Linked DNA regions of Homo sapiens. The protein of the gene in region 2 purifies or fractionates together with the protein of the main gene of each other region. This does not show direct contact. Each region holds a gene or a part of one and is shown on either strand. Other genes may lie near its edges. The genes, in order: STXBP4 and TULP4.

The links.
Region 1: the proteins of TULP4 (region 2) and STXBP4 purify together in Homo sapiens (affinity purification with mass spectrometry; one large-scale study listed by BioGRID and IntAct). This does not show direct contact.

The regions. Positions count from the first base shown.
Region 1 is NC_000017.11:55,167,515-55,171,023, reverse strand, and holds part of STXBP4 (syntaxin-binding protein 4), read right to left. Parts: 3' UTR 1-3,509. UniProt on the Homo sapiens protein: Plays a role in the translocation of transport vesicles from the cytoplasm to the plasma membrane. Inhibits the translocation of SLC2A4 from intracellular vesicles to the plasma membrane by STX4A binding and preventing the interaction between STX4A and VAMP2.
Region 2 is NC_000006.12:158,500,744-158,504,568, reverse strand, and holds part of TULP4 (tubby-related protein 4), read right to left. Parts: intron 2,892-3,825; coding exon 391-2,891; intron 1-390. UniProt on the Homo sapiens protein: May be a substrate-recognition component of a SCF-like ECS (Elongin-Cullin-SOCS-box protein) E3 ubiquitin ligase complex which mediates the ubiquitination and subsequent proteasomal degradation of target proteins.

The DNA.
Region 1 (3,509 bases), on a different chromosome or scaffold from region 2:
AAACTTAGATGTCCTGCAGGACTGCTCAACCAATGATACTGCTCTGAGATAAGTTGACATCCATAATCACAGAATTGGCCCCAGTCTTTCTCTGTCATGAAACTTGGCCCTCCCCAGACAATGAAAACATAAATATCACATCTGTGACAACTCTAGCATTTCTAGCAGGAAAAACAAATCCTGAAAAAGCATCAAATGCAGTGAATCTGACCACACAATGGTAAAATAGTTATTTCAATAAAGATTTTCATTTCAAAAAATGAATTTTTTTGTTGTTTCCACAATAATCAATTTAGTTATTGACAATGCAGGTCAGGCCTCATTCATGGCCATAACATAATCTCTGATCTTTCCAGTCCCTACAACACTACAAATTTTCACAGGATTATACATAGAATTCTAAAGCAAAATAATCCTAGAAAATATAAGTGGAAATAAAAATATATAATCAAATCAGATACACTTTTTTCATACACAATAAATCATTAGCATTTTTTCTTATAAAGGACAGGCTCACTGTAGAGTAGTATGCAGAAAAATATAATAAATAAAATAGATATCACAAATAATGTCATCTAATTTTTTTTCAGATCTTCTATGGTGTTTATATATACAATACTGTTGGTTTTATATTGTATACAGATCTGTTTCCTGTTATTACCACTTGATGTTATTATTGTGATACTTTCTTGGTATCATTAAACATTAGTAAACATTTTCTATCATGTTAGATACCATATTTTATTTAGACATTCCCCTGTTTTCAGGAATTTAGGCAATCATTTCTATTTTAAATCATGCTTTAATAAGCCTTTTAAGCATTTTTTTATTTTGGTCTAAACTTGGGGTCATTTGTGAGGATAAATTCACAGAAGAAGAAATTTTTAAGGCCTTTGATAGATGTTCCAAGACTGCTTTCCAGAATGTTTGTGGTGATTTATAGATGTCCTAAGAATATTTGAGGATATCTATGTCATGTACCTGCACTAACATAATTACTGTGTTTTAAAAATACTTTGGTTTTATTGTATCTTAAATAATTAATCAATAATTCTAAGGAAGCCTTATATCATAGGTGAGAAGGTTTGTTTGAAATTGGCAAGGAGCAAGGTACATGAGGGAGTTTGCATTGTCCACAGCCTTAAAGGTTCACTTCACACAGTAAATACTACAAAATTATCTGTCTTGGATTGTTTAGACATTCAATTGCTTGAATGTCCAGGGACAAACCACTTGATCTCTTCTAAGTATTTCATGTTAGGGTTTTTAGAAATAGCTTTTAACACAATTTTGATTGAAATAATTTTTCAGAAAGCCCATTTCACTTGTTAAGGCATTTCATCTTTAGCTGAATTTTAAGTATGCTATGAGATAAACCAGGAACAAGGAGACTTGATTCTCTATACCATATTTTATCGATTCTAAGACACACATTTTTCACATCTAAGCGTCTTTAGTATTTGGATGTATAATAGGCACTGCTAGCACTTTCAGATCCCTCTACCACTCTCATGCATGACAGCTCCCTGTGCTTTCACTCTCAACATTCAGCACCTGCACCTCTTTGTTGGACGGCTGTCCTCAGGCTACAGGAACATGCTTTGACTGCATTGCAGGCTGGAAGCACCTGGAAATTTACACCCACCCCCACCCCCACCCCCATTCAATAACTGATGGTGCAGAGGTATAAATACTCTGGGTTCTCTGGCCTCTGACTTGAACCTACTGTAGAACCTTTTTGTCTCTAGGGCTCTCCCGTGGGAGTGAACCAAAGTCATCTCCAGAATAGGCTTTGCTTGACATCACACTTTTTGTGGGTTTTTTTCCCCCTTTCCTTTGGATCGGTTCTATTTCTCTATTTCCCTATTACTTTTCACCCTTGGGCCACTTCCTAATTCACATAAATCCTTATGTCAGAGGAATTAAACATATTACAGGAAGTGTCTTACAATAATTGATGTCCTGCAGTTACTGTCAGCCAGGTGGTCATAGTGATATGGTTGTCTTTGCCTGTGCATGCATGAATTTGGTTGTTCTTTCCATGATATGACTGGACTGTTACTTCTTTACTTTTTGGTCAATAAACCATTTAAGGACTATTGAGAAGAGTATGAATCCTGATTGTTATCTAAAATTTTTCTATTAAGTCCTTTTGCCAAGATAAAAAATGTGCCAGCATCAGAGTTGTAGAATGGATGTCTAAGACAGGGAAAAAAATCTCAGAGACTGCAGTAGAATATTCCTTTAAGAAATGTTATTTATCCTGATGGCAGAGAGGGTGTTACCGTGAAAAATTGTGGTTTATGACAACTCTGATTCAAAAAAGAGATGCAGAAAGAGTTCAATTCTGAATGTACAGAGCTTTGTAAATATCATAATTAATATTTCATTCTCTTTTACACACATGATTTTTAAAAATCTATGCTGAAACAGTTCTCTTGTATTTACTTAAAGGCGTATAAGATAAAAATTCTAACTACTAAGTCATATTTTAAATCTTTTTTTCATTTTCAGTTACACACAAAATAATGATGGGTCTTATAACTGATGAAATACTAATTGGGAATATGGTACTTATAGAGACAGAAGAAATACAATCAATGAACAGTCTTAATTGGAAAAACTAAGGTAACTTCATAGACTTCTCACTTTCCATTTGTAGAGAGAGTTCTACTGGTAAATGAGGAACCACCAGTATTTGGTCATATTTTTGAAATTGTGTAGATTTTATTAAATATTTCTTATTCCTCCAATACGTGTGTGTGTGTGTGTGTGTGGTGTGTATATACACACAGATATATATATATACACACACACACACACACATATACTAAGTGTATGTGTGTGTATGTATGCATTCTATTTCCTTCAAATTTCCCTTATATCGAGTACTTTTATCAGAGAAGTAATCCATGCATTTAATTTGGTGCCAACTTCTTATTTTTGTGTGGTAATCACCAAAGAAAAATAAAAGCTGGCATTAGATTAAATGCATAGATTACTTCTCTGAATGATAAAACTGCCTAAAGAAATAGAATCTGCTCATAAACATCTTTTCATATTCCATTCCACAGAAATTTCTGACCTTACCTGTCTATATTACCTATTCCTATAAGGTAACTTTATTATCTACTCAATTTGTTTTGTCTTCCTGTTGTCTCTTCTCGTGTGTGCTGATGAAAGATGAATTTCTCCACTGTGAAACAGAACAGTCAAGCAATTCCAGTGGGGTTACTTATAGATGAGATAATTTCTGCAATTTCAGAGTTCTGTGGCAATACATAGCTCCCTTGTGCCAAATCAATTCTTCAGTAACATGATTAATTAACCCATAAGAACAGAAGTTTGCTGCTGCTCTGAAATGCACTAACCTTGTATTTTGGTTTCAGGCTTTATCTACCCTTCTATACCAAAATCATTCTGTGGTATTTCTTCAGAACCTTGGGCAAATCAACAATGTGTGAGTATGTGCTTTACAATCCTTTTACTGCGATCATACTGTGAGTTTT
Region 2 (3,825 bases):
CTGGCTAACACGGTGAAACCCCATCTCTACTAAAAATACAAAAAAAAAAAAAAAATTAGCCGGGCATGGTGGCGGGCACGTGTAGTCCCAGCTACTCGGGAGGCTGAGGCGGGAGAATGGCGTGAACCCAGGAGGCGTAGCTTGCAGGAAGCCAAGACTGCGCCACTGCACTCCAGCCTGGGCCACAGAGCGAGACGGTCTCAAAAAGAAAAAAAAAAATACAAGACAGCAGTGGGCACACTAAAAACCATAACCCCATGAGCTCCACCTAAGAGGTGTTCGTTGTTTTCCACATTTCCCATTTGGCCTTTTGAAAAATGCTCCTTGAAGGCCGAAGCACTGAAACCCTCGCCTCCTGGGCTCGCAGCGCCACCTGGTCTGAGGTCTTACCTGCCGCCCCTCTAACTCAATCTGGAAGTTCTTGGCGGACTCCTGGGTCACCCGCCCCCCGAAGTCCAGCTGGTAGACCTGGGTGGCCTCGTTCCACAGCGGCTGCTTGTTGGCCATCACGTACACGAAGCCTTGGCTGCCCAGCCGCCCGTCCTCCTTCTCACTGGCCCGCCGGCACTTGGCCTCCTCCAGCTCGCCGGCGGCCCGTGGGGAGCGCTTGCTTTTCCAGCCCTTTCTGCTGCCCTGGCTCTGGTTCATGAGCTCATCCCCGCTGATGAACAGCTCAGGCTCGCTCTCGGAGCTGTCCTGGAACTCGTTTGTCTTATTCAACTTCTTTGACTTCAGTTGGTCTTTCTGACTCTTCACTTTCTTCTTCTCTCTCCCCAGGTGTGGGCTGGAGATTAGGGAATTAAAGTCACTCAAAGTCCTAGCCTCCTTCTTCACTTTGCCCTCAGTGATGGCCTGAACGCTGCCTTCTTCTGCTCGGCTGTCCAGGCGCTTCCGGTTCTTCTTTCCAAATTTTTCTGTCCGCTGGGGGACTGGGCTTTCGGTCAGGGAGAGGACTTCCTGGAAGTTGTCTGCAGTCTCTACCATCACCTCTGTGCCCAAGTGGCTTTGGAGGTCGGCAGGTGGTGGGGACACAAGGGGCTTCTCCACCACCAAGTGTGGCTTTGGGGGGAGAGTGCCCTGGGGGTTCTGCATGGGCGGGCAGGCGCTGTAGGAACTCCATGGATGCAAGGCGACAGGTGGCAGCTGTAAACTAGAGCACGTGCTGCTTCCTGGGTACATGGGGGGCAGGGTGCAATAGGAGAGGCTGGGTGGGTACAGCGGCTGAAGGACCACAGCAGGCTCCTGTTGTGCAAACTGCGTTGGGGACAGGGCATCTTTGGGAGAGCAGGGAGCCTGCACTCCAGGCAAAGGGGGGTTGTTATAGCTTCCTGGATATGGCACTCCCATCCCATAGCCTGTTTGGAAAGTGGCAGTGGGGCTGGCAGGAGACTTGGGGGAGATGAAGGGCAGTCGGGACACGTCCAGGTGCTGGCCCTGACTCAGCATCAGAGAGGACAGTTTTAAGGGGTTGGGCCCTGAAGTCTGTGCTGTCCTTTCTTGAGGAACCCAAACATCCTCACCCAGCATGGGGTCCCACTGGTAAGGGGGTGGCCGTTTCAGGGTGACAGCAGCTTCAGGCAGGGGAGGGTGCCTCAAGGGCTTCTCAAGCTGACAGTGCTGGGACAGGGCCTCGTCCTCCGTGAAGGCCGAGTTGACGTAGTCGGTGCGGTCGCGGGCGCTGTCGGGTGGGCTCAGGAGGCTGTAGGAGGACTGGGAGGCCAACGGGGAGGCGCTGGCGGTATGGGCCAGGGAGGCTCCGGGCTGTGAGCTGGGCCCTGTGCCACTGCACTGACTGCAGGTGTACAGGGCAGGTGGGGGCCGCGCTGGGAGCTGTGTCACCACCCCCCCGGGCCCGCCCTTGGACTTGGCCAGGGGCTGCAGGGGGGCCCGCGGGCTGTCGGCCAGCTGGGCCATCTTGAGCGTAGCCTCACGGTTGTTCCTCCGCAGGGTAGCGTGGATGAGGCTATTGTCGGACCTCTGGGCAGCCCCCCGCCCCTGGGCCAGCTGGCTGGCAATTTCAGGATACGGGGGTGGGTCCCCGGTGGGGATGGAGTAGCGAGGGACGGTCAGGCGGTTCAGGGTGGCACTGCTGCAGGGCTGAGGGACCTTCTTCTCAGTGGCCGTGAGCCTCAAGGTGGCAGAGCTACCCGGGCCGGGGAGGGTGTACGTGTTCTGGGAGCACAGCATCCGGGTGCGGGGCCGGCACACCTCCTCCACGTTGCCACTGCTGTCGAAGGTGGTGATCCTCTCATAGCCCAGGGGGGTCTGGTAGTGCACTGACGTGGGGTAGAGGGAGAAGTCGCCCTTCTTCAAGCACACATCCACTGGGGGCTGTGGGGGCGGCAGAGGGGGCGGGGGTGCTGCTGTGGTGGGGGCAGCGGGGATGGTTCCTGGGTACGGGGGTGGAGGGTTTATCTTCGTCACCTGGACCTCCTGGGGGGCACTAAAGACCACTGCGTCCCCCTCAGCTGCCAGCTGCGGTGTTGGCCGCAGGGCCTTGGCTGACTTCTGCAGGTGTTCGTGGTCTCGGTCTCCATGGCCCACCGTGGACAGCTGCATGGGCCCCTGCGGCGGGGGAGGCAGGGACAGTGGAGGGGGGTTCTGAATGATGCGGCCCATTTCCACGCTTCCGAAAATCACCTGTCCAGGATTGGAGTACCGGTTGGAGACTGGGTACTGGGTGGCACTGTCACCTGCATGTTCTGCTGTCCCTACAGCTGTCGTCTGGTTGGTCAGGACATCTAGCTGCACATTCTGATTGGCCAGTAGGGACTGCACCAGCCCTATGCTCTGCGTGGGGGACATAGCCTGAGCCGAGCTGTGGATCGGTGCAATAGGGATGTTCACGGTACAAGGTGGGCTGTTCTCAGGGACACCAGATGCTCCTGTCACTGGAAGAAAATTAGAAAAAGGAACTGCTTACAAAAACACTGCCATTAAACCAGATCAGGATAAGCAATACGTCTGGACTCATCCAGTCTCCTTCTGTAAACAAAATGCAAATTGCCAGAGACAGAGACGTGTCTGCTTGGGGAAAGCTGGCCTGCTCGCACAAGGGAGATGGGTTCTTGAGGGCAGCCTGCTGCTGTCTGTTAGCTAAGGGTACTGTCAGAACTTTTCGACTAACTCACTTTTGAACCTTCTAAACTTGGCACCAGTGCCTCAATGGCACCATCACAGATAATTAAATGTCTGAAGAAGCTTTTTACTGGTGATATTCATAAAATACCCACCCTTTTATGCAAGAAGAGGGCAATGGTACAGGAAAAACCTCCATTGAGGACTTGCAGTGCCTAGGCCTCTGAATAGGTCTATTCATGATTATGGGATGGATAGTGTGGAAAGTGTCATGCAACAGATGTGTATAAGAAATGTATGCACATTAGGTTTCTGTAAATAGAACCATGTAAAATGTGGTAGAAAAAACAATGAAAAGAATCTTCTAGTGAATCTGAGTATCATATGAAGGATCATTTCCTAATTTTTTTTTTTTTAAGACAGAGTCTTGCTCTGTTGCCCAGGCGTGCAGTAGCAGGAGTTCAGCTCACTGCAACCTCCACCTCCTGGGTTCAAGTGATTCTCCTGCGTTCAAGTGATTCTCCTGCCTCAGCCTCCCCAGTAGCTGGGACTGCAGGTGAGCGCCACCACACCCAGCTATGTATTTTTAGTAGATATGGGGTTTTGCCATGTTGGCCAGGCTGGTCCCCAACTCCTGACCTCAGGTGATCCACCCACCTCGCCTCCCAAAGGGCTGGGATTACAGGTGTGAGCCACCCTGCCTGGCCTTTATCTGCTTTTTAGCATTTCAAACAGTATGTAAGGTAG